Homo sapiens: one gene and its partners. The protein of the gene in region 5 purifies or fractionates together with the protein of the main gene of each other region. This does not show direct contact. Each region holds a gene or a part of one and is shown on either strand. Other genes may lie near its edges. The genes, in order: GOLM1, TXLNG, MARCHF5, BNIP1, GRAMD2B, GOLM2 and HOMER1.

What was found.
Region 1: the proteins of GRAMD2B (region 5) and GOLM1 purify together in Homo sapiens (affinity purification with mass spectrometry; 3 studies listed by BioGRID and IntAct, with this or other methods). This does not show direct contact.
Region 2: the proteins of GRAMD2B (region 5) and TXLNG purify together in Homo sapiens (affinity purification with mass spectrometry; 3 studies listed by BioGRID and IntAct, with this or other methods). This does not show direct contact.
Region 3: the proteins of GRAMD2B (region 5) and MARCHF5 purify together in Homo sapiens (affinity purification with mass spectrometry; 3 studies listed by BioGRID and IntAct, with this or other methods). This does not show direct contact.
Region 4: the proteins of GRAMD2B (region 5) and BNIP1 purify together in Homo sapiens (affinity purification with mass spectrometry; 3 studies listed by BioGRID and IntAct, with this or other methods). This does not show direct contact.
Region 6: the proteins of GRAMD2B (region 5) and GOLM2 purify together in Homo sapiens (affinity purification with mass spectrometry; 3 studies listed by BioGRID and IntAct, with this or other methods). This does not show direct contact.
Region 7: the proteins of GRAMD2B (region 5) and HOMER1 purify together in Homo sapiens (affinity purification with mass spectrometry; 3 studies listed by BioGRID and IntAct, with this or other methods). This does not show direct contact.

What each region holds. Positions count from the first base shown.
Region 1 is NC_000009.12:86,033,043-86,037,309, reverse strand, and holds part of GOLM1 (Golgi membrane protein 1), read left to right. Parts: intron 1-802; coding exon 803-962; intron 963-1,684; coding exon 1,685-1,942; intron 1,943-3,914; coding exon 3,915-4,028; intron 4,029-4,267.
Region 2 is NC_000023.11:16,792,644-16,796,910, forward strand, and holds part of TXLNG (gamma-taxilin), read left to right. Parts: intron 1-4,267. UniProt on the Homo sapiens protein: May be involved in intracellular vesicle traffic. Inhibits ATF4-mediated transcription, possibly by dimerizing with ATF4 to form inactive dimers that cannot bind DNA. May be involved in regulating bone mass density through an ATF4-dependent pathway.
Region 3 is NC_000010.11:92,349,400-92,354,464, forward strand, and holds the end of MARCHF5 (E3 ubiquitin-protein ligase MARCHF5), read left to right. Parts: coding exon 1-133; intron 134-271; coding exon 272-438; intron 439-1,691; coding exon 1,692-1,808; 3' UTR 1,809-4,565; downstream 4,566-5,065. UniProt on the Homo sapiens protein: Mitochondrial E3 ubiquitin-protein ligase that plays a crucial role in the control of mitochondrial morphology by acting as a positive regulator of mitochondrial fission and as an important regulator of immune response.
Region 4 is NC_000005.10:173,146,764-173,151,030, reverse strand, and holds part of BNIP1 (vesicle transport protein SEC20), read right to left. Parts: intron 4,166-4,267; coding exon 4,073-4,165; intron 1-4,072. UniProt on the Homo sapiens protein: As part of a SNARE complex may be involved in endoplasmic reticulum membranes fusion and be required for the maintenance of endoplasmic reticulum organization. Also plays a role in apoptosis.
Region 5 is NC_000005.10:126,468,157-126,472,423, forward strand, and holds part of GRAMD2B (GRAM domain-containing protein 2B), read left to right. Parts: intron 1-1,520; coding exon 1,521-1,632; intron 1,633-4,081; coding exon 4,082-4,148; intron 4,149-4,267.
Region 6 is NC_000015.10:44,410,176-44,413,712, forward strand, and holds part of GOLM2 (protein GOLM2), read left to right. Parts: intron 1-3,160; coding exon 3,161-3,231; 3' UTR 3,232-3,537.
Region 7 is NC_000005.10:79,398,626-79,402,892, forward strand, and holds part of HOMER1 (homer protein homolog 1), read right to left. Parts: intron 3,431-4,267; coding exon 3,274-3,430; intron 1-3,273. UniProt on the Homo sapiens protein: Postsynaptic density scaffolding protein. Binds and cross-links cytoplasmic regions of GRM1, GRM5, ITPR1, DNM3, RYR1, RYR2, SHANK1 and SHANK3.

The DNA of each region.
Region 1 (4,267 bases), on a different chromosome or scaffold from region 5:
CCAAGTAGCTGGAATCACAGGTGCCTGCCACCACACCTGGCTAATTTTTGTATTTTTAGTAGAGATGGGGTTTCACCATGTTGGCAAGGCTGGTCTCAAACTTCTGACCTCTGGTGATCTGCCTGCCTCGGCCTCCCAAAGTGCTGGGATTACAGGTGTGCGCCACCGCGCCTGGCTGTCCAAGCATTTTCTAATTTGTGTTGTGGTTTATTGTTGGACTCACTGGTTATTTAGGAGTGTGTTGTTTAATTTCCAAATATTTGCAAATGTCATAAGTTTCATCCTGTTATTGATTTATAATCCATTCCATTTCTATTAATTTACTTTGTGTGATTTTAGTTAAATATTTAAGTGTATGGAGGCTTGCTTTGTGGCCTGCCATTTGTCCATCCTGGAAAATATTGTGTGTGTGCCTGAGAAGCAGGTGTGTTTGCCCTTGCTAGGCTGAGGGTTCTGCAGATGTTTGTTTCGTCAAGGAGTATTGTGTCGTTCATGTCTTTTTTGTTGTTGATCTTCCGCCTAGGTATTTTATTATTCCGTAAATGCTTCCTCTCAGCAGAATCACTGCCCAGTTTTATTCTGTATTGACAGTACTTTCTGGGAGACCTTGACTCAACCTCTTGTCTTCTGATTTACGCCACATGACCAGGGCGTGACCAGAGTAGACTGTGGCGTTTCTCGGGGTCTTGGTTGGAAGGATATGGTGGTGGGATTGGTGGGATTCATTGCATTGGTAGGATTCTTTTACGGCTTCTGTTCACAGAGCCCTGCCCTGGCTGGCTGTCCTGTGCTTCTGTTTCAGCTCCAAGCCCTCAGTGAGCCTCAGCCCAGGCTGCAGGCAGCAGGCCTGCCACACACAGAGGTGCCACAAGGGAAGGGAAACGTGCTTGGTAACAGCAAGTCCCAGACACCAGCCCCCAGTTCCGAAGTGGTTTTGGATTCAAAGAGACAAGTTGAGAAAGGTAAGCAGAGCCCAGCAGTTGCCCTGTTCCCAGCTCTCCAGAGCCCCATCAGAGGAAGCAGTCCCAGCGAGCTGCTGAGGCAGTCAGTGAACCCGGCAGCGGCGCAGCCAGGAGCAGGGACGTGTCTCTCTGGGCCCCTGGAATTGGGGCTTTGGGGCTTCTCTGACAGATGTCTCCTCCTTGTAAACGAAGTGCCTTGTTCCTGGGCAGCTGTGTAGAGAAAGGCCCAGGCTGCACCTTTATGCAGGACATTGGTGGGCTTGTGGGACTCGGGGGAGGCGGCTGAGCCCCAGACACTGGGAACCAGGAGGCTGCTGTGTCTGTGAGCAAGCCCTGGGTGGGCCTGCCTGCCCTGGCTCCCAAGTGCTTGCTCCAGCGGACCCGATGATCAGGTCACTCAGCAGGATACCCTTTTCCCTTTGTACCTTGTCAAGGTAATTTAGTCCAGGTGTTTTTTTTTTTTTGTTTTGTTTTTTTTTTTGGTAAGCTACTTTTCCCTTTGTCGCGGTTCTGACGATGAGCTGCAGGCACAGAAAGGCCTGCAGTCTGTGGCTGAGGTCACAAAAGGAGCTACCTGGTTGTTCTCCTGTGTGCAGCCCACCCCACCCCCACTCCTTGGGAAGGCTCTGGGAATTGAGTGGCACCAGGTTTTGCTTTTTTTTTTTTTTTTTTTTTTAAATCAAATGCTGGCAAGGTCACAGCTAACTGTGTTCTGTGCACAGAGGAAACCAATGAGATCCAGGTGGTGAATGAGGAGCCTCAGAGGGACAGGCTGCCGCAGGAGCCAGGCCGGGAGCAGGTGGTGGAAGACAGACCTGTAGGTGGAAGAGGCTTCGGGGGAGCCGGAGAACTGGGCCAGACCCCACAGGTGCAGGCTGCCCTGTCAGTGAGCCAGGAAAATCCAGAGATGGAGGGCCCTGAGCGAGACCAGCTTGTCATCCCCGACGGACAGGAGGAGGAGCAGGAAGCTGCCGGGGAAGGTGGGTGTGAAGTTTCGGGGGCCGCTGTGGACTCCCTTCCACCAGACACCCAGCCCACCTCCATGTCCTTCCCAGCACCAACATATCACCCTGAATTTTACCAAACAGCAGTCCACAATTTGCCAATTCCTTTTCGTTTGAAGGTTTCTTATTCGTTATCAAGAGGGAGGCAGGAAGGAAGAGCAGCATATGCTCTAGAACTCGAGGTTTTAGATGCAATATTGGCAGGGAGTCGAGGGGACCTTGCAAGTGGATGGCCTGCAGATGGGTGCTTAGCATCAAGTGGACGCCCCCTCCTGGCAGGCAGGCCACATGCCCCATTTTTGTATGTCCACCGTCGTGCAGTGTCTGGTGCCATTTAGACAATCAGTGCCTAGTGAATGAATGAAGGAAGGAAGGAAGGAATATTGGGTAGATGAAGGTTAATGCATATGTGAACATTGAGAAAAAATGACATGTGAATCACTCCTTTTTGGTTTGGTTGACTCTTTTCTTTTTAAAGAAATAAAGGGTAGGAATTGGAGATCAACCGACTATTCCAGGATGTATTTCAGTCCCTTCAGATATGGAAAATGTCCTTCCCACCTGAGCCAGGAACACTTCTGAGGACATGACACCTGCGCTCTGGGGTGGACCAAGTCACAGAAGTTGGAGAATACACTTATTTGCAGAAGTTACCTTGATTCCATTTAAATCTAATTTTCACTTCAGTGTCTTACTGAAGAACGTGTCCTTCCAAGTTCCAGTTAAAGAATTGGATTTTGTCAGCCTCCCCCTAAGTATCCCTGCTCTGTCCTTGTGTTCCGTGCTCACCCAGCAAGAAGATGCTTGTGGTGTGTGAGGCGGGGAGATCTCACTGGCTCGCTCAGCCTGTGGCGCTCCAGTGTCAGACCCCTCAGCGGCTGGTCACAAAGCGTAACAAAGGTGGGCCTGAGATGCCACAGTGCCTGCAGGATGCACCTGCTTCTAGATGCAGGTGTGGTGACCTCATTTGAAGAAACGCGGTGGACACATAGGCCTGTGCAGTTTCCACCCCAGGCAGTGAGCCAGAGAAAGAGACTAGAGCTGCTTTTCCAGGTGTGCACTTTTAAAAAAGATTTTGTTTGGCCGGGCGCAGTGGCTCATGCCTGTAATCCCAGCACTTTGAGAGGCCGAGGTGGGCGGATCATGAGGTCAGGAGTTCAAGACCATCCTGGCCAATATGGTGAAACCCCATCTCTTCTAAAAATACAAAAATTAGCTGGGCATGGCAGCACGTGCCTGTAATCCCAGCCACTCGGGAGGCTGAGGCAGGAGAATCGCTTGAACCCCGGAGGCGGAGGTTGCAGTGAGCCGAGATTACGCCACCGCACTCCAGCCTGGGCGACAGAGTGAGACTCCATCTCAAAAAAAAAAAAAAAAAGATTTTGTTTACCAGCCTGCATACACATATAAAATATGTAAGTTAAACCCTTTGAGTAGGTCTCTTGAAAGCCTTTTGTCCTCATCTTCTCTGGCTGCTGCCCACTCCAGGGAAGAATAGAGTAATGGGTGCTCTCATGCTCTAAGTATGAGGGACACCTTCTCACGTGTCTCACAGTGGCAGCTCCATTTCCTCTCTCCATTCTAAGGAGATGCTGTCATTAGCTGTAGATATCCGTTCCTTCCTAAAACAGTGGCACCTTTCTTTTATCTTGAGTTGATTATCTCTTTAAAAAATTGAGATTTGGGTTGTTAGTTTCTCCATGTTCTGCCTAGAATGCACCCTTGTATTTAGGGCCATGCTGTCTGTAGATTCCGAGTCCAAGTGGAGTACACATAATGCATGTGCTTGTCCTGGAAGCCAGCCCTTGCGTCCCTACCATTTCCAGAGAGGCAGCAGACAGATCTGATTGTGAGCAAGTATGGCTAACCCCCAGCACTTGTGCTCTGATAGTCCTGTGACATCAAGACAGAAATGATGTAGCTTATGTTTTATGTGCTAATTTTACAGGGAGAAACCAGCAGAAACTGAGAGGAGAAGATGACTACAACATGGATGAAAATGAAGCAGAATCTGAGACAGACAAGCAAGCAGCCCTGGCAGGGAATGACAGAAACATAGATGGTAAGAATGGGGCCTACATCGGTGACGAGGTCACCTTTCATTTCTCTTTCCTGGTCCTTCACCGTGATTATCCAATGAATCCCCAAAATTATATTGTAATTAATGGGTCATTTCAAGGAGATCGTCTGTTCTTTAGGAGCTTTTAAACCAGGGGCAGTGGAGGGAAGTGAGGGTTGAGAAGCCCAAGGTGATGAAAACCATTCGGAAAGTCTGCATCGTTTCTAGAAACATATTCAGTG
Region 2 (4,267 bases), on a different chromosome or scaffold from region 5:
ATTGGTATGTGCCTGTAGTTCCAGCTACTTGGGAGGCTGAGGTGGAAGGATCACTTGAGTCCAGGAGGTCAAGGTTGCAGTGAGCCACGATTGGGCCACTGCTCTAGCCTGGGCAAGAGAGTGAGATCCTGTCTCTAAAAAATAATAATAATAATAAAAATAAAAAGTATAGGCCAGGCACAGTGGCTCATGCCTGTAATCCCAGCACTTTGGAAGGCCGAGGCAGGTGGATCACCTGAGGTCAGGAGTTCAAGACCAGCCTGGTCAACATGGTAAAACCCCATCTCTACTAAAAATACAAAAATTAGCTGGGCATGGTGATGCATGCCTGTAATCCCAGCTACTCGGGAGGCTGAGGCAGGAGAATCACTTGAACTTGGGAGGCGGATGTTGCTGTGAGCCAAGATCGTGCCATTATACTCCAGCCTGGGTGACATAGAGGGAGACTCCGTGTCAAAAAAAAAAAAAAGTATACAATAATATACAAATTTAATATCATATTCATCAACATTGAGATGGGACATTTCTAGAAGAGGGTAGAAATAGGTAAGGTGACCTTTAAGATCCATTAAGACCCTGGGAGTACATTTTTATGTTTGAATCTACCTCCTAGTTGAAATTCTGTTGGCACTTATAAATACTTACATTTTATTACTTGAAGGAAAAGATACATAAAATAACTGGTGTTTTCCTCCTATGCTATCAAAATAATTGTATTAGCATTTATTGCTTAGGGTGTTGATTTGCATTCTGTGTTGCATTTCCAAAACGTCCCTAGAATGACCTCTGTTATCTCCTACTTCCCACCTTATAGTCTGTCCTGAGTAATATTTACTGGCTACTTTTTTTTTTTTTCATGTTTCTTCTTTCCCTACTCTCAAGGTAGTAGAATGGTTTGGCAAGAAAGATGTGCCAGTAGCTTAGAAACTCATTTCTTTATGGGTCTTTTGGATTGCAAAATGGGCCATATTAAAAGTGAGAATGAATGCATTTTGTAAAATATCTTTTTTTTTTTTCTTTTTTTTTGAGACAGGATCTCCCTGTGTTGCCCAGGCTGGAGTGTAGTTAACGCTTATTGCAGCCTTGAACTCCTGGTCTCAAGTGATCTTCCTGCCTCAGCCTTCCTAGTAGCTAGGACTACAGGTGTGTGTGCCACCATGTCTGGCTGTTTTTTTTCTTTTTTTTGAGAGACAGGGTCTTCCTATGTTGCGCAGGCTGGTCTTAAACTCTTAGGCTCAAGCATGATTCTCCTGCCTTGGCCTCCCAAACTGCTGGGATTACAGGCGTGAGCCACTGCACGCAGCCTGTAAAATGTCTTCATTCAAATATTATAACAGTTCTGCTATGTGTCAGCAGTTTATATCTATCAGCAATTTATACCTATTATATCTACTTATGGCGCTAAGAAGGTAAGTACTGTACATCCCAGTTTACAGATAAGGAAACTGACAGGTTGGCCTCCCTATGGCCACACAGGAGATGCTAAGTGGTATATTCAGAGTTTCGGCTCTTTGGGCTCCAAAGCCATTGTCCATATTTCGTATCTCTCATGTTAACATTTCCTCAGATAGTAAAGGTCACATAAGTGCCCCTAGTTGAAAGTGAGCAAAACATGCTGGTAGATAAAATAGTAATAGTAATAGTTTTTGCTAAACGAAGACAAATTATGAGGGATGGAGTTGGATGATTAGGGGATATCGAAAATTGATTGTAATTTGGGGACCAGAGGAGTTTTGAGCCTCTTAATATCTTTTGCTTCATTCACCTAGGCCCTAGGTTAACCTTGAGATTTATGATTTAGGAGGTATGCCATGCTACAACTTCCTGCAACAGTACCTCCAAGTGTAATTTGAATAAATTGAAAGGTAGAGAGTTTAGAGAGACTCTCTTTAACTTCTTGTAAATAAAGTTCATATAACCTGGTGTTAGCAAAGAGTTGAAGTGGTCTGGGGAAGTAAGACAAATAAAAAGAAGGCTTGATGTTTCAGAGGTGTATCAGGATTGGTCCATATGGATCTAGGGAAGGATGACTTCATAAAATTGGGACAGGGATGTTCACTTAGGTAACCCATAAAAGTAAAGGACCATTTTACATCTAAGAGTCTGTGGCTTAAAGATGCTAGTTGTGTGACCCAGCCCCTGTCCTGTAAATAGATCAGGTCCAAGTATATTTCAGTGGCTTTGGGCATTAAAATCTTTGAATGTCCTGCTCTTTTGCTGCTGAAATAGGTACTTACACTAATACAAGTATCTTTCAGATTGCAGATATTCATTGAGTTACAGTTTTAGAACTAGAAGTGATTTTGCAAATCATGGAATCCAGCATCCTTTATTTATATAAAAGAATAATTTAGCTGGGCGCGGTGGCTCACACCTGTAATCCCAGCACTTTGGGAGGCAGAGGCAGGCGGATCACGAGGTCAGGAGATCGAGACCATCCTGGCTAAGATGGTGAAACCCCATCTCTACTAAAAATACAAAAAATTAGCCAGGCGTGGTGGTGGGCGCCTGTAGTCCCAGCTACTCGGGAGGCTGAGGCAGGAGAATGGTGTGAACCTGGGAGGCGGAGCTTGCAGCGAGCCGAGATTGCGCCACTGCACTCCAGCCTGGGCGACAGAGCGAGACACTGTCTCAAAAAAAAATAAAAATAATAATTTATTTTTATAAAAGAAATAGCCACAGAAGTTAAATGCAAAATTTAATGCAGTCATTAACATTCACTTATTAAAAGGCAAATGATGTACACAGTCTAATATAGATGTTACCAGTAAATGTACAATATTAGCACTTATACTGCTAGGTTATGAGACTAAAGAAGCTGTGTCCAAAGTAGACCTTTCCCGGATCCTTTTACTCATTCTTGGTTTCTTCCCCAGTGGGGGAGATCAGGTTCCCTCATCCCTTAGTTTAGCACTAGTCTGCCTCTCTTTTCTTGTCATTTACCTACTAATGGTTCTGTGTGTTCTTTGTGCTCTTACATGCTGTGACAGTTACTCTGGATCCTTTAGCTGCCTGCTCCCAGGTAGTAGTTAGGACAACTCCTAGAACTTACCCTGCCTCCAATTTATGATCCCTCCTTAGAACTCCATCATTTCTCTGGCTTCATTTATTTAGTAATTTGTTTGGGTAACATGCCATACAGTTTGCCCATTTATAGTGTATAATTCAATTTTTTTTTTTTTTTTTGAGTCGGAGTTTCACTCTTGTTGCCCAAGCTGGAGTGCAGTGGTGCGATCTCGGCTCACTGCAACCTCTGCCTCCCGGGTTCAAACAGTTCTCCAGCCTCAGTCTCCCGAGTAGCTGGGATTACAGGTATGCGCCACCGTGCCCGGCTAATTTTTTGTATTTTTAGTAGAAACGGGGTTTCATCATGTTAGCCAAGATGGTCTTGAACTCCTGACCTCAGGTGATCCACCCACCTCAGCCTCCCAAAGTGCTGGCATTACAGGCATGAGCCACTGTGCCCGGCCTCACTTTTTTTTAGTATATATTCAGAGTTGTGTGACCGTCACTACACTTGTTCATTTTTATTATTTTTTATTAGAGACAGAGTTTTGCCATGTTGTCCAGGCTGGTCTCAAACTCCTGGGCTCGAGGGATCCTCCAGCCTTGGCCTCTCAAGGTGCTGGGATTACAGGCATGAGCCACTGTGCCCGGCCGCACTTGTTTATTTTTAACATAACCTGGGAAGAGCATGCTCTTTAGAGAGTATGCCCTTTACAGAGAAAGACAAGGATTCAGTCTCTGCTTTCCTTTCCTAGGTTCCTGACCGTGGACATCGTACTTAAATTACCTTATCACTGAGGCTGCTTGTTTATCATACCTGCCTATAAGATAGTTCTGAGAATTAAATGAGGAAGTAGTCTATTAAATACTGTTACAGAGGCTTCTGAATGAGCCAGAGCAATGAAGGTCAAGGGAAAGTGTTTATACCAGTTGTCCCTCACCACCCATTTGGATTCCACTGATTGGCAGATCTGTCACTTAACAAAAAGGGGGAAAGATGCCTATTTGTTAGGTGTAGTTGAATAAGAAGGAAGTGGCACTCTTCTCCCTGTTCTCCTCCCTGGTCCCAGGGCGTATTCCCTAGAGGTGGATCTGCCTGCTTATTGCTGCCAAGATGTGGACCCCTTTCTGGTCATGGTTTGACAGAGCTGGCCTTCTAGTCTCTCTATTCCTGCTCCCACCACAACCAGGACAGCAGTTCTCAAACTTCGGTTTGAGGATCTTTTTGTACACTTACACATTATTGACAGTCCCAAGGAGC
Region 3 (5,065 bases), on a different chromosome or scaffold from region 5:
TTCCTTTTAATTGGACTTCCTACTATTCCTGTCATGCTGATATTAGGCAAGATGATTCGCTGGGAGGACTATGTGCTTAGACTGTGGCGCAAATACTCGAATAAACTACAAATTTTAAATAGTATATTTCCAGGTAAGGCACTGAACTGTGGTTGTAAAGTGCATACCAAATTGATCTTGAAGAACAATAACATGCTTTTTTAGCCATGTTTGAAGGTAGTCTAACTCTTCTGATTTATTAGCACTAACGCACTGCATTTTTTTCCTCTAGGGATAGGTTGTCCTGTTCCTCGAATTCCAGCTGAGGCCAATCCTTTAGCAGATCATGTCTCTGCTACTCGAATCTTGTGTGGAGCCCTTGTCTTTCCTACTATTGCTACAATAGTTGGTAAATTGATGTTCAGTAGTGTTAACTCTAATTTACAAAGGACAATCTTGGTAAGACGGCTTTAACATTACTTATATTACCTTGCAAAAGAGAATGAAGTGTATTTGTTTTTAAAAGGTGGGGAACTGTATAAATATTCGGTCTGTGGCTCCTATGCATTAAGCCTCTATTTGAGCCTCACTATCATTCAATAGCTTGAGTGGAAATAAAAAGAGGAGAAACCACTGCAGCAGTTCTGGCCTTTTGGAACTATGTTGTAGGTGCTTTCTCTCCTGGCATATGCATGAATCATCACACCTGTCCCTCTTGCCAGTGGGATTACAGTACTTTACGATCAGACCACCTGGTTCAAATCCCATCACAGAAATTGTCTTGCTGTGAAATCTAAATCAAATGTCTGGACTTTTTGTTCCTGTAGTATGGTGATGGTAATAATCAGGATTATTGTGAGGATTGTATAAGTACTAGCACATAGTAAGCACTCATGTTGTTTGCTATTATTGTTACTCCCACTTCTCCCCTCTGGTGGCATGTAACCTGCACGGACCTTGGAGGACTGAACAAAGGGGGCAAACGTGGGAATAAAAGACAAAGACAAGAGAGTATATTTGGAAGAAGGGGTCAGGGGGCACCTTGCCTCTAGTGGACAAGGGCCCTGAGCTTTACACAGCCCTCTGTATTTATTAGGCAAAAGAGATAGTGAGAAGCAGGGGTGATTGTCGGGTAATTGTCAGTCCATTTGGCAGTTTGGTTCACAGCAGGCTTGCGAGACTGCATCATTTGAACAGTAGGCGCTAGATTTCCCAGTAGATAAGTTCAAGGAGCCCTGCACCAGGGAGTGATGGCCCCCAGCAAACCCTTTGGTGGCAGGCTCAGTGTGAGTTTACTCACATCCTGCATTCATGATAAACAGTTTGCTGTTTGGTCATATAGCCTCCAGTGGAATGCTGAGTTGGTCACGATCCCTTTGGCCTTTCTTGCTCCCAACAGTGGCAGTCTGCACATAGTGCCCTAGCATTCTTCTTTGTATATCAGAGTATATGTAGAACTACATGGAAGAAAGACTAGTCAGAAAGGATAATGGAGAAGGCATCTGTGTCCCCTGTTACCTGTAGTAACAGCGTATAGTCTGTCTCTCTCCCTATCTCATCTCCTAGTAGAAAAAGAAAACTGTTTCATTTGCAGTCATCTGAATTAGTTTAGCATCAAAGCCTACGTCTTTTGTGATCTAAATAAAATTATTTTTATTACTCTGTTTCTCTAAATCTGCATTATAAAAAGCTAATTTTCCTTTTTATTTTAGGGTGGAATTGCGTTTGTTGCCATAAAAGGAGCATTTAAAGTTTACTTCAAACAGCAGCAATATTTACGACAGGCACACCGCAAAATTCTGAATTATCCAGAACAAGAAGAAGCATAAAACTGACTTCTGGTTGTTCTGCAGTTCTCTCATCCTTATGAATCTGTTGTGTTGTTTTGATTCCATCATTAATGCACTTGTGGAGACTTGTGATAAGCTGCTGCTCCTATATTTTTTAAGAAATATAATAAAGCACTTAGGGCAGGGGAAATCATCTCGGTAATCATGGAACCTAAGGATGTGATTTGTTTTCATTGTTTGTATGTACTACTTTTATGGCAGTCATATGAACCATTATCTTAGCATGGTAAACCTGGGTTTTGTTCATATTTTCTCCAGACAGAAATGCAAAGATCAAACTGTGCAAATATTAAAAAAATGCACATGCTGTTTTATTCAAATGCCTCTTTTGTACATGTTCATGTTTAGTGTTTTCTCAGAATCAGCAACTCAAGGTACTATGAGGATTTTTCTCACTGACATAATTTGATTACATACTAAATAAGAGGATATGTTAATATGAGGAAATGTAAATTAAATTAGTTATAAATAAATAACCAAAAATGTATGTAAACATTCAAATGATTATCTGAACAAATGAGATTTTGTGGTGTTTTCTTTAACCCATGTGATGTCCTCCAAAATGTGTAGGGTAAAAATTCACAGGGCTTCCAGATCACTTTTTCAATATTAAATTTTATTTACATAATGTTGACATCTCATACTTCATGAAGTAATTTTGACTCATGCAGTCGTGTGTGTGTGTGTGTGTGTGTGTGTGTGTGTGTGTGTATTTGTGTGTTTCAGTGTTTCATCAGGTCCTTCCATCTCTGGGAGTTTTTTCAACCCATATTTCTAGAAATTACAGCTGCCAGTTTATAGTAGTTTGAGCAGAGGATGATTTGCAAAAATAAAAATAAAGTTATTTTACTCTCCTCTTGCATTGATTCAGTTATTGAGATATTCGTTGATCACCTCCTATTTCCCAGGCACTGTGCAGAGTGCTGTAGGACATAGTGGTGAACAAGACAGACTTGGTCCAAGCTCTTACAGAGTTGACAGTCTAGTTTCAGCACATAGAAAACCAGCAGTGAATAAACCAAGGTGAGGCCTTGAGCTCTTTGTTTTTATATTAATGAGGAGAAAAGTATGAAAACAAGAAGTCTTAAGTAAATATTGAGGTCATTGTTTTTGGCTTAAGTTTATTATAGAAAATCAACACTAATGTTTTTAGATTTTAATTGTCCTATTGATGAGGCTAGCACCTTAATCACTGTTTAGTTTTGTATTCATTTTTAAAAGCAATTATTGAAGCCATTTTCAATAGATTGGCCATTTTAATGTTCAGCAACCTGAATGGTTATTTTTGTTAATTAAAATTAAATTTTTAAGAGATATTTTCAAAACCCTATTTATTTTCTTGTTCACAGTAATGCATGTCAATAATAAATGTTTCCCCTTACTGATAAGCGGCCACTTTAGGAGTGTAGCAAATATAGATTGAGCTATGTTAGTTTGCAATAATATATGTTAACTTTAGTAATTAAAGACTGGTTTCTATAGTATGAATGTCTTAATTTTGAGTTATATGATGTTTATTTGAATGACTGTTGAACATTCAAATTTGTATTATTTGGAGATGAAGATTTGACTAACAGTGAGCCTTATTAAGAACACTACTACAGTTCTGAAGGGGAAATATAACATCTATGGTTATATATTTTAAAAACTTAGATTATAGGCTGTAATTATAAAATATATTGGCTTTTGTTTTCAATGTGAAAGATACATTAAATGGACACATATCTTGCAAAATTTTGTTGTATAGAACAGTTTTTAGGCAGCCTTTACTAAAGTTATGCAAACACACAGTTCCCCATTTACTACATTAATGCCCTTGACAGGGAGTAGCTGCTTGGTTTTATAGGTATTAGGGCTCATGAAGGCCGGGGAACAACTCTAATCCTTTTGGGGCAGGAGGGAGGGTTTTTTTAGGGTTGCGGGGAGGGAACTGCAAGTGCCTGAGGACCAGAGTGGCCTCTAGCCCCGAATTGAACACTTTTAAACCTAAAGAGCCTTATTATTATTAGCTCGAGAAATACCACATGCCAGTCTTCCCAGGAAGGTGACCTGCCTGACCATGAAGCAACAAAAGAGCATAGGCAGACTTAAAGTTGGATAGACCTGGGTTCAAATCATAGTTCAGCTTTCAATAACTGTATGTATGATTTTGGCTAAAGGATTTGACTTTCTCTCAACTGCAGTTTTCTTAATCTTTGAAATGCAAATAATGTTTATCTCAGAAGACTATTTCTAGGATTAACTGAGAGATTAAAGGAACAGCAGCACTTAGGCTCAAAATCGCCCCTACAAAGCAGTAGTTGTTTCTTAATTGCTAAGTAATCTGTTTGCACTCTAGGAAAAGTAAATGGAGAGGTAAAAGAAAGGCATTGGGGACAAATGAAAGAGATGATGTAGATTTTTCGGATGGGTGGGTATATTTTATTTTCCAGTTTATTTTCATATTTCTTTACTGTGTTATTTCTGGAAACTTTAATGTTTTAAACCTCTTTTATAAAATTCAATGACGACTACTAGAATTCTTTTCAAAAGTTAACTTATCTCCAAAGTGGCTGAAAATATTGTTTACCATTACATGATTATGAAATGACTGTGAAGAATATAAAATTAAACTTAGTGACTTAATTAGTCACTGCCTTGCTAACTTTGCTGTAATTTTTTTAAACGTCTTGTTTTTAATATAGCAAACTATCTCAATACTGGCTGGATTAGGTTAAATAAAGAATTTTTATGTTCTCTAGGTGTACTTTGTTAAATCTCAAAACATTCTGTACATACATAATTTTTTTTAATCACAGTTATCGAGATACTAGTTTTTGTAAGTAAAAGTAATCTGAATTTAAAAAAAAAACTGTATGGAAGAATTTGTCCTAATTTTGTAAACAGGCTAGCCTATATTCTAAGTATGTTCTAATGACTAAACTACATCCCCACTCACCCACCCTCAAAGCCTCTTGCACTGAGTATAATTAAGCAACTAGACAAGATCTGTGGGTGGTCTCATGCCATGATGTCTTAAAGTGTATTCGAGTGAGTTGGGAACACAAACTGCTTCTGAGATATTAAGAACTTAAATTTCTGAAGTAGAAGATTAGAATCCTCTAGAATGAGTTAAAGGTCTTTTCCTTGCATCCATTTGGGGATTATATTGGTTTTAAGTCATTTCATTACCCCATCTGAGAGACAGATGCTAAGAGGAGAAAGGGCATAGAATTGAACAGTCCTGGATGCATATG
Region 4 (4,267 bases), about 47 Mb from region 5:
ACTCCGTCTGTACTAAAAATACGAAAAATTAGCTGTGTGTGGTGGCACACACCTGTAATCCCAGCTACTTGGGAGGCTGAGGCAGGAGAATCGCTTGAACCCAGGAGGTGGAGGTTGCAGTGAGCAGAGATCACACCTGCACTCCAGCCTGGGAAACAGAGCCAGACTCCGTCTTAAAAAAAAACAAAAAAACAAAAGTATAAAGTTTTTAAAAGCTGTGTGTTAGTATGCTACTTTTTAGATGAGAAACAAGGAAGAAATTTTAAAAAAAAAGAAATTTGTCTTTTTAAATATTTGAGTAGAGAAACTCTGGAATGACATATCAGTAACAAAAGTGGTTACCTGTTTGGAAGAGTGGAACAAAAAACAAAACTGGGGCATAACTGAGACTTTTCACTGAATGTTGATACTTATAGACAGACACATACATAAAACATGTAAAAGGAACATCTTTTCAAAAATAAAAAATTAAGATGATTAAATCAGTACTGGAGATGAAGGCAGGAAGAGATCAGCTAGGTATGGTGACGCTGCTGAAAATCATATAGTTAACTCCAATAGCAAAAATTACACATTTTCAAAATTGCCCTTGAAAATCTCTGAGGTAGGCAAACACAGGACACAGACATACTGTTTCTCAGGGGTCCAACTGGCCAGCTTTTCTACCAGCTTTAGAACAGACTGTCTTCCTCTGTTAAGCAACAACAGAGTTGCTGGTGGGCTTTGGGGGCCATGTTATATGAAAAGCACAAGTCTTTTTTTTTTTTTTTTTTGAGACAGGGTCTTGCTCCGTCACCCAGGCTGGAGTGCAGTGGCACAATCTTGGCTCAATGCAACCTCCAACTCCCAGGTTCAAGCAATTCTCATGCCTCAGCCACCCAAACAGCTGGGATTACAGGCACGGGTCACCATACCCAGCTAATTTTTATACTTTTAGTAGAGATGGAGGTTGACCATGTTGACTAGGCTGGTCTTGAACTCCTGGCCTCAGGCGATCCACTCGCCTTGGCCTCCCAAAGTGCTGGGATTACAGGCGTGAGCCACTGTGCTGGCCAAAAAAGCTCAAGTCTTTAGACCTGATATAGTCTGAATATTTGTCCCTGCCCAAATCTCATGTTGAATGGTAATCCCCAGTGTTGGAGGTGGGGCCTGGTGGGAGGTGTTTGGATCATGGGGGTGGATCCCTAATGAATGGCATAAGTCATCCCCTTAGTGGTAAGTGAGCTCTCACTCAATCTCTCTCTTGCTCCTGCTTTTGTCATGTGACATGCCTGCTCCCTTTGCCTTCTGCCATGACTGGAAGCTTCCTGAAGCCTCCCCAGAAGCAGATACTGCTATGCTTCCCATACAGCCTGCAGAACCTTAAGCCAATTAAACCCATTTTTTTAAATAAATTACCCAGCCTCAGGTATTTCTTTACAGCAATGCAAGAAAGGCCTAATACAAAACCCCAATACCACAAGACCAGGTGCCACAAGACCCATCCAGGGATGGTGATATGGTTTGGCTGTGTCCCCACCCAAATCTCATCTTGAATTGTAACTCTCACAATATGTCATGGGAGGTACCTGGTGGGAGATGATTGAATTACAGAGGTGGGTCTTTCCTGCACTTTTCTCATGATAGTGAATGAGTCTCATGAGATCTGATGGTTTTAAAAACAGGAGTTTCCCTGCACAAGCTCTCTCTTTGCCTGCTGCCATCCATATAAGACGTGACTTGCTCCTCTTTGCCTTCTGCCATGATTGTGAGGCCTCCCCAGCCATGTCAGAAGTCCATTAAACTTCTTTTTCTTCCCAGTCTCACGTATGTCTTTATCAGCTGCATGAAAACAGACTAATACAGATGGGCAGATCCATGACACCCACCTCACCCTCACTGAAGGTACAGCAGGGGAAACATCTCCACTATTCAAACTGCTACTTCTAAGAGACCTCCAGAAGTCTAGAGGAGCAGGCATGTTTCCACACTCAGGTACCTCCTGACTCTCCTAGGTCCCACTAGGGCAGAGTAAGTGCTAGTTCTCTGCCAACCCAACATTAGGTCCTGTGGCTGCAGTGAGAAGAATTCCAGGAGAAAACTCAGGAATAAAAATGGAGAACGTAAGACATCAGACTGAAATTACTAGAAACCCTCAGGAAATAAAGAAGGAAGAAGAAACCAAGAAACCAGAAAAACCATCAGAACAGTAATCAACCCTTGGAGTGACCAGGAGATCCAGAGTTCCCTAAAAGAATGCAATTATCTCAAATTTGAATAACTGAAGAAGAATCATGAACAATATAAAGCAACTGCCTAGTGCTTCAAGTAGAGGGGCATGAAGAGGAGCCGGCAGGAATGTCTCCAGATAATGACAAGTTTGCAGGACTTTTACTGAACTACTCATGAGGCTAAACAGAGGCCAAGGAGCCAACCCTGTTCCTGTCCTCAGGGAGAGGGCCTACACAGGATTCCAGGATACAGATGGACAGCATCTTTTTAAGTGTGCAGATGCAGTCATCCTTCCAACTCCTGAGTTCCAGCCCTGGGCCTGTGCCATCCCTATTCACTTTGAGGGGCTGCTGTGGGCCCCTCTACCCATGAGCTGCATGCAGGATCCTTGGATGCCCAGATGGCAGCCTTGAAACATGACCCCTCCATAGTCAGCTCCATACGTGTTTCCTCTCAGCAGCCCCCAGACCCACAAGTGGTCTTCATCCTCTGATTCTGATCTAGATTCTGAACTTGGAAACAATTAGAAGCTGAATCCCAATTCTGTCTGAAAGCAACACAATAGTCTGGGCTCATGCCTGTAACCCCAGCACTTTCAGAGGCTGAGGCAGGAGGATTGCTTGAGCCCAGGAGTTTAAGACCAGCTCAAGCAACATAGAGCAAAAAATCCATCTCTATTAAAATATATATATATATATATATATATATATATATATATATATATATATATATATATTTTTTTTTTTTTTTTTTTTTTGACACAGAGTCTTGCTCTGTCACCAAGGCTAGAGTGCAGTGGCACGATCTCTGCTCACTGCAACCTGCACCTCCTGGGTTCAAGCGATTCTCCTGCCTCAGCCTCCTAAGTAGCTGAGATTACAGGTGTGTGCCACCATGCCCAGCTAATTTTTGCATTTATCAGAGACAGGGTTTTGCCATGTTGGCCAGGCTGTTCTCAAACTACTGGCCTCATTTTCATTTTTAAAAATGAAAGCAACAGAATAACATGATCTATACAGTGGTGCACAACTCTTTGCCCAGCCCAATGTAATAAGAATAAAATGTGAAATAAATAAAACAAACAAACATAACTGCTACTTGTCACCCTCTAGTGTTTTTTGAGACAGCACATATACCATACTTGAATTCAGGCATACTAAATGTGTATATGATGTGACTGGTGACTATTGAAATAAGGAAGATGCTGAGCAAAGTAACAGCATAAAAAAAAACCCAGGAGTGTGATGGATTGAGGTAGTGAATGAATGAATAGGGTAGAAAGAATGGCAGAGAAGAGAAAGTATTTGAAGTGGCCCCAGGATTTCAAAAATTCCAAGGATAATGGTGTTCCTGCCATTCACTCGTTCACACAGCTGGCAGTGTTCTGCATGCAAAAGTTTCTTGTTTTTTTTTTTGAGACAGAGTCTCGCTCTGTCGCCCAGGCTGGAGTGCAGTGGCTCGATCTCGGCTCACTGCAAGCTCCGCCTCCTGGGTTCACGCCATTCTCCTGCCTCAGCCTCCTGAGTAGCTGGGACTACAGGCACCTGCCACCATGCCCGACTAATTTTTTGTATTTTTAGTAGAGACGGGCTTCACCGTGTTAGCCAGGATGATCTCGATCTCCTGACCTCGTGATCTCCCCGCCTCGGCCTCCCAAAGTGCTGGGATTACAGGCGTGAGCCACCGTGCCCGGCCAAAAGTTTCTCGTTTTTACCTGGAGAGCAGGTTAGTACAGAGTCACCCTCCCTGTCTAAGTGTTTACTGCTCCCATCAGCTGGTGTTTGAAGAACCCAGACGGCTCTCAAGCAGAGGATATACCCAGGACAGAGCCCCCTTCATTGACTGAATTGAGAATACCCACCTGTATTCTGTGACGCAACTGTTGAAATTTCTCTTTTACTTTAGTATTCAGTTCAGTAAGAGCACTTAAGGGTCCTGAACAATCACGGATATCCTAGGAGACATTGAACAGATGAAAGGCCTTTCTCAAGGCAATGAAATGAAATGACACCATCCATACAGTGATAGAGTTGGTTTAGACCAACTAATATTAACA
Region 5 (4,267 bases):
GCATTCTACTTTGAAATGACTGCGTTTAGCCGTAGGGTTGAAGTTACGTACAAATGTACACATCCACTAAAATGGAAAACCAGGACTAGAATCATCTTAGAAGGAAACTCTGGAGCTCTGACCTCTGTGCTTAACAGGAAAAAGGAAGACTTGGCTTCAAACATGTTTTGTGGTTTCATTTTTTTTATTCTGATTTCACTTTTATTGTATTCCCACTCTGGGATGTTTTGTCTCTTTTCCTCATACCCAATTCTTGCTTATCCTGTTAGGCCCAGCATTTTAAGCCCACATTATTCTACTGTTTTCCTCTTCTATTTATTTACTTTTTTTAATTTAACTTTATTTTTTTGAGACAGAATATTGCTCTGTCCCCCAGGCTGGAGTGCAATGGTGCAATATCAGCTCACTGCAACCTCTGCCTCCCGGGTTCAAGCGATTCTTCTGCCTCAGCCTCCCGAGTAGCTGGGACTACAGGCGCCCACCATCATGCCCAGCTAATTTTTGTATTTTTAATAGAGATGGGATTTCGCTATGTTGGCCAGGCCGGTCTCAAACTCCTGACCTCAGGTGGTCCGCCCACCTTGACCTCCCAAAGTGCTGTGATTACAGGCATGAGCCACTGTGCCCGGCCTGTTTTCCTCTTCTCTTACCTCCTGTTAGACTTATTGGCTCCATACCTTCTCCTAACTCCTATAATATGTATTTTTTTTGGTGCTAAATCATGTACTGCCTTTTTAAAAAAGTGTTTGATGCATGCATACACAGGCGCCTTAAGGATACAAACTGTGTTATGGGCCCCAAGACATTTAATACAATGCCCTACTCAATTAATACTTGTTATATATTAGTGGAATTCTGAAACAAAAATATTCTTTGATTGAACTATAGCTGCAATATTATTTAGTAATTTGCCTCAAGTACTCCTTTTTAAATACTGATTAAAATAGTTTCGTTTTAAAATGATGTAATTATTTTCACAACTTGATTGTTATTTCACCCTCTGTAAGTTACTATTTCTACAGTTTTTGATTACAGCCTGATGAAATCATTGCAGTGTCCTAAAGCATGTGCTGTGTAAATATTCTCAGAGTATCATGAATGATTTTTGATATCCAGAAAAGAAAAACAAATGTCAGGTTTTCTTAGAAGATAGTATAATAATCAAGATTTATTACAATAAATTAATGAAAAATGTATCTCATAGGCCAGGTGTGGTGACTCATGCCTGTAATCCCAGCACTTTGGAAAGCCGAGGCAGGTAGATTGCTTAAGTCCGGGAGTTCAAGACCAGTCTGGGCAACGTGGTGAAACCCCATCTCTACAAAAAAATGAGCTGGGCATGGTGGCACACACCTGTAGTCCCAGCTACTCAGGAGGCTGAGGTGGGAGGATCGCTTGAGTCCTGGACGGGGAGGTTGCAGTGAACCGTGATCATGCTGCTGCACTTCAGCCTGGGCAACAGAGCAAAACTGTCTCAAAAAAAAATTATCTTATAGACACCCTGGACTTTCTTTCTTTAGGTCAAAATCCAGTTTTGATGGTGCCTCTTTAGCAAGTGATAAGAACGACTGTAAAACAGAAAGCAAAAATGACCCTAAGACTGAAAGAAAAAAGTCTTCATCTTCCAGCCAGGTAATTTGAGAATGGAATTTGTATTGTCTTAGAGGGTGACAGGGCTACTGAAGCCAGTGACAAGAAGGAACCCAAGTATGCACCTTCCTGCTGGTCAAGACTAATATAGGTATAGAGTTTAGAGAATTTAGAAGAACAAACAGGCAGCAGTTCCTCCAGTCCATTTTTCAGCAACGTTATATTCCACAACTCATTTTTCAGCACATTGCATGGTAGTGAGTTCCATGCTGTGGCCTCGAACTCTGACAGATACCCAGAGATCAGGGACCAACACAAAGTCATGTGCTTATCCAATAATTGGCAGGACAAGGGGAGTTGTGACATCCTTGTACTGAAATTGAAGAGTCTGATAAGGCACCTGCCTGAATAGTAGTAGGCCAGCCAACTGCACACAGAGGAGTTAGACCTTTGAACAGGGTCAGGATTCTTCTCCAGAACTAATTTTGGTTCTGCTTTAAAATATACCCAGATAGGAAACAAAGCCTAGTTCTATGTCATCAGAGAGTGTGATGCATGTGCTGGGGACAGGAGTTTGGGGTTTTTCTTAATTCTTCACCCCTCTAAATACTTGAATATGTGTTTCCTAAGAGCTAAACCAAAAACCATCGGCACACCCAAGAAATTTAAATATGAAATGTATTAAAATATTATTAATACAAAATTCACTTTTGAATTTCCATAGTAGTCCCAGTAATAAATATCCTTTATAAAGGTGTTTTTTTCCTCTTCAGGATCCAATCAAGAGTCACATACTGCATGTAATTGCTATGTCTTTTCTCTTTTTTTTCAAGGCAGAGTCTTGCTCTGTTGCCCAGGCTGGAGTGCAGTGCCACAATCTTGGCTCACTGCAACCTCCACCTCCCGGGTTTAAGTGAGTCTCATGACTCAACCATCTGAGTAGCTGGGATTACAGATGTGCACCACCACACCCAGCTAATTTTTGTATTTTTAATACAGACAGGGTGTTGCCGTGTTAGCCAGGCTCATCTCAAACTCCTGGCCTCAGGCGATCCACCCACCTCTGCATCCCAAAAATGCTGTGATTACGAGCATGAGCCACCGCACTCAGCCTGCTATGTCCCTTTTAATTGAAAGCAGCCCCACTACCTTTTTTGCCATTTATTACGTTGACATTTTTGAAGCGTTTATGGCCTAGCATATTTTAAATCAAGCGTGCAACCACTGCTCACTGTAGCCATTGAAAACAAAAGCTCAGTGAAGCCATAGAACACCTAGCTTTAATCAAGGTATCTTTCTATAAGGAGTTTATCTGTAAAATAGTTGACTTGCAGGGACCATCTATCATCTTGATGACCTGGTCTGTAGTTCTTTATGGCAAAACAGGGCCAGTTTTGCCATTGAGACCACTCTTGGTTTGGATAATAAAGCCATCCAGGGCCTCCTACCCATTCTCCTTATAAGAATTTTTCTTCAGAAGCATCCCGTGAGGCAGATTGATCCTGTGGAGGGAGGATCGAGTTCTACCCCATAGTTCGCTTCAGGCTTGAACTCCTGGGCTCAAGAGATCCTCCTGCCTCAGCCTCCCGAGTAGCTAGGACTACAGGCACATGCCACCACATCCAGCTAACAGTTCTACTCTTAATAGCTATATGATGCAGGTGAAAGTGTTTTACAAGCTGTAAATTGCTGGCTATCCATTGTTATTGTCACAGTTGTGAAAACAGATCCCTTGAGGATGAAGTGATTTACAGCTTTCATGGTCTTGGGCCTTCTGCTGCCCTGGAGAGTGAAGTCTTTGTATGAAATCCTACTTGTCTTGTCAGTAGCCTACTACTGCATCCTACTCCTGTCACTGGCTAAGGAAATGCCTTCACAATAATACAGTAGGAAGAGTGGCCATATGTTGCCTTAGACTATAGGTCCTTTACATGTATTATCCCATTTAAGCCTCATGGCATCCCTTGAGGCTGGCACTGTTTTTGCCCTCTGGTACAGAAGAGGAAACCAAGGCCCAGGGAGATTAAGTGACTAAGCCATGGTCACACAACAAGAGCTAGAGCCACTACAGCCAAGACTTCAACTCAGGTTTACCTGACTACAAAGCTTTGAACCACTGTACTCTTCTGAGAGTACTCACTGGTACCTTTAGTACCTGGGATCCAGTATCTTCCCTAATGAGATTCCTTAGAATTTCATCCCATTTCTCATCAGGGACATCCTTGTCCAGCCCTGTTACCTCGGCAGTAGGCTGACCAGCAGCTGCATCATTATATCCAACCAGCAAAGCATTAAACTTGTTAGAAAATGAAACTGTGTGCCCAGACTTTCACTGTGTTTTACTGAAGGCTTGTGTCAGAGACTGTAAGATCAGTGAGAAGGAATTCCTAAAGATACTATTAAGGGAGGGAAAATTTGTTGTTGAAGTTGAATTTGTGATGTTTCACAAGAAAGTGAGAATGGTGATGCTTGTATTTTGTTCTCATTGTAGTACAAGGCCAATATGCACTTTCACAAGTTGTTTCTTAGTGTCCCAACGGAGGAACCACTGAAGCAAAGTAAGTTCTGACCTGTTTGACTTTTTAAGCTACATATTTGAAAAGTTGATCATTAGTTTTGGGGAAGAAAAAGGGCATAGTCCATGGACTGAGTCACCAAGGGGATCAGGTTTCTGAAA
Region 6 (3,537 bases), on a different chromosome or scaffold from region 5:
TGCCTGTAATCCCAGCACTTTGGGAGGCCGAGGCGGGCGGATTACGAGGTCAGAAGTTCGAGACCATCCTGGCTAACACGGTGAAACCCCGTCTCTACTAAAAAAATACAAAAAAATTAGCTGGGCGTGGTGGCGGGCGCCTGTACTCGGGAGGCTGAGGCAGGAGAATGGCGCGAACCTGGGAGGCGGAGCTTGCAGTGAGCTGAGATCGCGCCACTGCGCTCCAGCCTGGGCGACCCAGTGAGACTCCGTCTCAAAAATATATACATAATTTTTTTTAAGTAAAGAGTTCATTGATAATTGATTAGCATGTATATAAAGTAAAAGTGTGAAATGGATATAATTTCAGGCTTTAACACATATTAAGACAGATTTGGGATTATCATACCTAGTGGATTATACTATTTAAAGATAGATCATTTGTTAAGAATATGGGGTAGGCTGGGTGCAGTGGTCACAGCTGTAATTCCAGCACTTCGGGAGGCTAAGGTGGGCAGATCGCTTGAACCCAGGAGTTAAAGGCCAGCCTGGGCAACATGGTGAAACCCTGTCTCTACAAAAAAAAAAAAAAGGAAAAATTAGCTGGGCATGTGGTGTGTGCCTGTAGTCCTAGCTACTCAGAAAGTTGAAGTGGGAGGATCCCTTGAGCCCTGGGAAGTTGAGGCTGCAGTGAGCCGAGATTGTGCCACTGTACTCCAACCTGAGTGATGGGACTGAGACCCTGTATCAAAAAAAAAAAAAAAAAAAAGGTGCAAAATGGTTACCTGAAATTCTAGAAATGAAAATTTCTGTAAGTTTAACAGGAAAGTTGTTGAAAAAGAAAGTTGGTTTGTTTGACTTTTTTTTTTTTTTTTTTTTTTTTTTGAGATAGGGTTTAACTCTGTTACCCAGGCTGGAGTGCAGTGGTGTGATCTCTGCTTACTGCAACCTCCACCTCCCAGGCTCAAGCAATCCTCCTACCTCAGCCTCCTGAGTAGCTGGGACTACAGGTACACACAACCATGCCTGGCTAAATTTTGTATTTTTAGTAGAGACTGGGTTTCAGCATGTTGCCCAGGCTGGTCTCAAACTCCTGAGCTCAAGTGATCTGCCTGCCTCTGCCTCCCAAAGTGCTGGGATTGCAAGCTTGGACAACCATGCCTGGCCTGTTTTGCATTTTTGAAAGAAGAAAGTTTTAGAGTGTTAAAACCTCTCATACCTAAAGTAATAGTTTTTAGAAAACTATAGTATACATATGAATTTAGATTCCAATGTATGACTTTCTTTAAATTATATTAACAAAAATTAAGCTATTGGGTAATAGTATGTGACCCAGAATGTAAGAAAAGTGATTTTTTAAGTCTGCAGAGAAGCCAAAAGATATCATAAAAATCCATGTACTCTACGCCAGGCGCGGTGGCTTATGCCTGTAATCCCAGTACTTTGGGTGGCTGAGGCAGGTAGATCACAAGGCCAGGAGTTTGAGACCGGCCTGGCCAACATGGTGAAACTAAAAATACAAAAATTAGCTGGGTGCGGTGGCAAGCGCCTTTAGTCCCAGCCACTCAGGAGGCTGAGGCAGGAGATTCCCTTGAACCCAGGAGACAGAGGTTGCATTGAGCTGAGATCATGCAACTGCACTCCAGCCTGGGCGACAGAATGAGACTGCATCTCAAAAAAAAAAAAAAAAAAAATCCATGTACTCCAAAGGGACTCTCCAAGGCTCTCATCAAAATACTTTTCATTCTTGTTCTAATATAATTTTAATACTCTTGGCTGAGGCCGGTGGATCACTTGAGCCCAGGAGTTCCAGACTAGCCTGGGCAAATGGCAAAACCCTGTCTTTACAAAAAATACAAAATGTAGCCTGGTGTGGTGGCGTGCACCTGTGGTCCCAGCTACCTGGGAGGTTGAGGTGGGAGGATTACTTGAGGCCGGGAGGTTGAGACTGCAAGTGAGCCATGATAATACCACTACACTTGAGCCTGGCCAACAGAGCAAGATTCTGTCTCAGAAAAACAAACAAACAAACAAACAAAAAAACCTCTTCAGCAGTCTCATTTCAAAACCTGTAATTTGCAGCAAAATTAGAAAAGAAGGATTGCTATTGGCAGGTAAATTGACAAGAAGGCAAAGTGATCACAACTCATAGCCAAGAAAGAGCCAGAAAAATCTGTAATAGCCAAATAAATCAAACTCCATAGCACTATTTGGAGTAATTTAATACAGCCACTCAAAGAGGCTTTGAGGATTTTAGTAACAGTAATCTTTTTTTTCTGTTTAGTTAAGAAAAGGTTAAACTTTGGTTGTTATACCCCATTTAGGAAGCCAAGAGGAAGCTACTTTTGCAGAGACGTAAAGAAATTCACTAAAATGTTAAATGTTGGGATTATGAGTGACTTTTATTTTTCTGTCTTTTATAATTTTAAAAATACTAATATTGGATACTTTTATAATTTAGAAAAAAAAATTGATGTTTAAAAGCCTGAAAATGTGTACAGAAATGTTTCTACCAAAGCTTTAATTTAAAGGACTAAATATCATCTATATAGAAATAATATATTTAGGCTGGGCACTGTGGCTCACGCCTGTAATCCCAGCACTTTAGGAGGCCGAGGTGGGCAGATCACCTGAGGTGAAGAGTTTGAGACCAGCCTGGCCAACATGGTAAAACCCCGTCTCTACTAAAAATACAGAAATTAGCCAGGCATGGTGACAGGTGCCTGTAGTGCCAGCTACTTGGGAGGCTGAGGTAGGAGAATCGCTTGATCCTGGGAGACAGAGGTTGCAGTGAGCCAAGATCGCACCACTGCACTCCAGCCTAGGCAACGGAGTGAGAGTCGGTCTCAAAAAAAAAAAAAAGACTACATTTATATAAAAATATTAACTCCTCAATATTTGTGCGTTCCTAAAGTTTTACTAGTTATGTCTATCTGGCTCTATTTCTGTTTGTCTGTCATCTATGTCTATTTTCTAAAGATTTGTTAAAATTAATCTTGCAAAATAGTTCCACATACTTTTCACTCTTTAGCCAAGCAACTAAGAAATAGAACACTATTTGTACTAGGTGTAAAATAACAAGCAGGAAACTACCTTAAGGCTATGAAAAACTGAGACATTAATTGGATTTCTGCAGTGATTTAAAAAATAATATGTTGATACAAAATTATTTTACTTACAGATGATGAAGAACGAGAGCTTCAAATGGATCCTGCAGACTATGGAAAGCAACATTTCAATGATGTCCTTTAAGTCCTAAAGGAATGCTTCAGAAAACCTAAAGTGCTGTAAAATGAAATCATTCTACTTTGTCCTTTCTGACTTTTGTTGTAAAGACGAATTGTATCAGTTGTAAAGATACATTGAGATAGAATTAAGGAAAAACTTTAATGAAGGAATGTACCCATGTACATATGTGAACTTTTTCATATTGTATTATCAAGGTATAGACTTTTTTGGTTATGATACAGTTAAGCCAAAAACAGCTAATCTTTGCATCTAAAGCAAACTAATGTATATTTCACATTTTATTGAGCCGACTTATTTCCACAAATAGAT
Region 7 (4,267 bases), about 47 Mb from region 5:
ATTGCTAAGATTCATCTTTCATTCCTGTGATTCCACCATTCAAAGACTTTCAGCAGCTCATCTTTTTTACGGTATCAGATCTAAACGCTCAGATCCTCTGTATATTGGCCCCAACCTTCTCAACCATCCACACTGCCCAAGATACTCAGTGAGTACTTCCAACTAAAAGCAGGCAAATCTCCTTGTCCTAAGAACAAGTGATATTCATTCCCAACTTGTTGATTTAACTAGAATGTCCTCTCTTGCCTCTGAAAACCACTCGGACCTAACCGAACCCTTAACTCTTAGCTCAGCATGTGCTTTCTCCAGAAAGCCATTCCTATCTGCTCAAGTCTTCAAGGCTCTCCTCTGGTTCACAAAACCAAGCATCTGTTCAAAAATCTTGGGAATTATTTCACTTATTGTTTAATGTGTATTTGTTTTGTCTCATTATATAATAAATTCCTTAAAGGGAGTTCCAATTCTGATAATGATGAAATAGTTTTTATTGGAGTAACTTTCCTATAGGTAACAATTGCAAATTGTGGGCAAAATGTAAAAGTCAACTGTTTGAAGGACCTGGTGAGTAACCAAATTGGGCAAAAGACTGCAAGAAAGCAGTCACTTTGGGTGATTTCCACATCTTTTTGCCTGAAGGTACTCTGCAGTCTGGCTGCATTGCTTGACTGAACAAGCAGAAATCCATAGTCTTATTTCTCTGAGAAGCCTGAGAATTTTAGGACTCTGCAGAACACCTGGCACAACTAGGAGTAGGAAAAGAGCTGGAAGGCTGAAAGAACTAAACTGCGATGGTGCTCAACAGAGATGACAGTTTGAAGTTCTGCTAGTCCCTGCTAAATTAGAGGGCCTTGGTAAATACCTCAAGCTTTGCAGTGAAACTTTGGAAAGGGTTATGTCTTAGAGATAAAGATTTCCTAGGACAATGTGATTTACCCTAGGGTTACAGCAAAATTGAAATACATGAATTCTAACAAAGCATAAGTACACAACTCCACAAATTCAAGATAATCTCCAAATAACTGCCTGTTGAAACAAAAACTCAACATTATTCAAAAATAACAAAATCTGTGGTCTCTACAACATCTCATTTGCAATGTCCAATACAAAATTAAAAATGACTAGTCATTTTTCTGAAAAAACAGTAAAATGTAACTTATAATCAAGACAAAATTTATCTAAATAAAAGTGGAGATAATTTGTTGGCAGTACACTTGGAGTACAAAAACTGCTCAAGGAGGTTATTCAGGCTGAAGGGAAACAATACCTGATAGAAATTCAGATCTACAGGAAAGAAGCACAATGGAAACTGAAAATATGTGAGTAAATAAATATATTATGTTTCTTAAGTTCTTTAATATTCAATTGACTATTTAAAGAGAAAATTTCTTAAGGGCAGAGATTACACAATAAGGAGACATGATAGCTCCTTAATATTTTCTGGCTATGACAATTGTCATAAATTTTTTTTTGTGGTAAAAAACATATATCATAAAATTTATCATCTTAGTCATTTTAAGTGTATAGTTCAATAGTGTTAAGTATTTATATTCACATTGCTGTGAAACAGATCTCCAGAACTTTTTTAACTTGCAAAACTGTAAGTCTATACCCATTAAACAACTCTCCTTTCCCCCACCTCTCTTAAGTTAATTTTTACACACAGGATAGAATAACATTTACTCAAGTTTCTAACATTTCCACTCTGTCTCAACTGCATTTCCTTTTCTTTCTTTTTTTTTTTTTTTCTGAGATAAGGCCTTGCTCTGTTACCCAAGCTGGAGTATGCAGTGGCGTGATCTCAGCTCACTTTAGCCTCTGCCTCCTGGGCTCAAGTGATGTTCCCACCTCAGCCTCCTAAGTAGTTGGAACTATAGGGACATGCCATCACACCCATCTAATTTTTGTATTTTTAGTGGAGATGGGGTTTCACCATGTTGCCCAGGCTGGTCTTGAACTCCTGGGCTCAAGCAATCCATCCTCCTTAGCCTCCCAAAGTGCTGGGATTATAGGTGTGAGCCAATGTGCCCAGCTTGGAATTTTTTTTAAAAGGAGAAATTAAAGGCATCTGTTGGGTGAAGCACTTCTATGCCTTGAATTAAAAAAAAAAAAACTTCTTCTTTTTTTTTTTTGTTTTTTAGAGACAGAGTCTTGCTCTGTCACCCAAGCTAGAGTGCAGTAGAGCCATCATAATTCACTGCAGCCTCCAATTCCTGGGCTCAAGCAATCCTTCCCACTCAGCATTCCAAGTAGCTAGGACTACAGGCGTGTGTCCCCATGCTTGGTTAATTAAAAAAAAAAAAGAAAAAAGATTTTTTTTTTTTTTTTTTTTAATGGAGATGGGGTCTTGCCATGTTGCCTGGGCTAATCTCAAACTCTTGGCCTGAGAGCATTAAAACACTTTACAAGTAATTATCTGGGCTTCTGATATTAATGGTATTGAAATTTCTGGTTTTCTTTTTCTGCACCAAATCTCTAATATTACCAAAGTTAATAATTTTCTACTTGTATTTTTCAAATTGTTCCTTCTTTAAAAAGAAAATAATAAAAGCAGCTCATTGACTCACTGCAACTCATTGAGACAGTGCAATTACACGGCACTTAAGTGTCTCAACAAATTTTCATAGGAATTGTACAGAATACATACTTTTGACTCAGTGCAACTACATGCCAATTAAGTATTCAATTAATCTTCACAGGAATTGTACAGAGTACTTATTATTCCTATTTTACAGATGAGAATACTGAGCTGGAAGAAGGAAATAACTTATCAAAGATCATACAGATAATAACCGGCAGAACTGGAATTCGCACTCTGGAATACTCTGGTCTTGTAAACCAGAAATGGAGAATCCCCTCCCCAGGACAACTCAGGAGAAAAGCATTCCCGCTTCACCGTCAACACCCAAAGCTAAAATTCTAATTAAACTACTCCCTGAATTTTTTCTCAGCACACACTTTAACTACCATGTCAGTACTAATCAACTAGCACTAATACATTAGTGCTTTTATGTACTTGTGCATTACTGCTAGTCCCCATGGATAATATGGGGAATCAACATGGTTTGTTGACTTCAAAAGGCGTATATTCTTCATTCTCATTAAACTATGGAAAATATTTTTCTTAATCAAACAAATGCATATCATACAACCCATATCTATGTTCTGACATCCTAGAACTAGAAGATATCCCTGTGCTGAATCTACATGCAAATTTCTTCTGATCAAGAAAACCTGTTAGCCCTAAATCCCTATAGACATCAGCCCTGAAATTACCCGCTTGTGCAGACGTTCTGCTTCCTCTTGATAGGCAGCAAGTTGCTGTTTCCATTGTTTCACATTGGCAGTGGACTCCAGCAGGGCTGCAGTGAGTTTGGCATTATTTCCTTTGAGGGTAGCCAGTTCAGCCTCCCAATGTTTGCTGATTGCTGAACTAAAATAAAACAAAAAGAAAATTCTATCCATTACACCAACTACTGTTACCTTGAAGGGACAGCAAGACTCAGTTCTATTGTAGGGTTTATAGTCTAAGAATGTTTTCTTTTCTTTTTTTTTTTTTTTGAGATGGAGTCTCGCTCTGTTGCCCAGGCTGGAGTGTAGTGGCGCAATCTTGGCTCACTGCAACCTCCGCCTCCTGGGTTCAAGCGATTCTCCTGCCCCAGCCTCCTGAGTAGCTGGGACTACAGGCACACGCCACCATGCCCAGTTAATTTTTTTGTATTTTTTTAGTACAGACGGGGTTTCCCATGTTGGCCAGGCTGGTCTTGAACTCCTGACCTCAGGTGATCCACCTGCCTCAGCCTCCCAAAGTACTGGGATTACAGGCGTGAGCCACTGTGACCAGCCCTAAGAATGTTTTCAAAGACAACCTCAAAATACTAAAAAACACAAATACTTTACCAAAATATTCCTAGTAAAGAAAACCTGGCAAGTGAAGAAATATAAAAAGTACTCAAGTACCAGGCTTAACGTGGAATGTTTCCAACCTTCATTATGACAGATACAGTTATCTACAGAAGAGTTTCCACCCATTCTCTTTTAAGGAATAAACATTATAGCCTGAAAAACATCTATTAAAAAAACCTAACAATGTATTACATTTTTTACGTGTGTCAAACCCTAAAGTACAATGTTATTCCTTAATGAAAACATATGAGGATGCTTAAATGTCATAAGGTTTGGGATATGTAATGTAGTATTTCTTTTGAAATTGTTTTTGATTTATTTCATCTTATTCAGGACCTTAAAATGTCAAAAATACAAACATTTG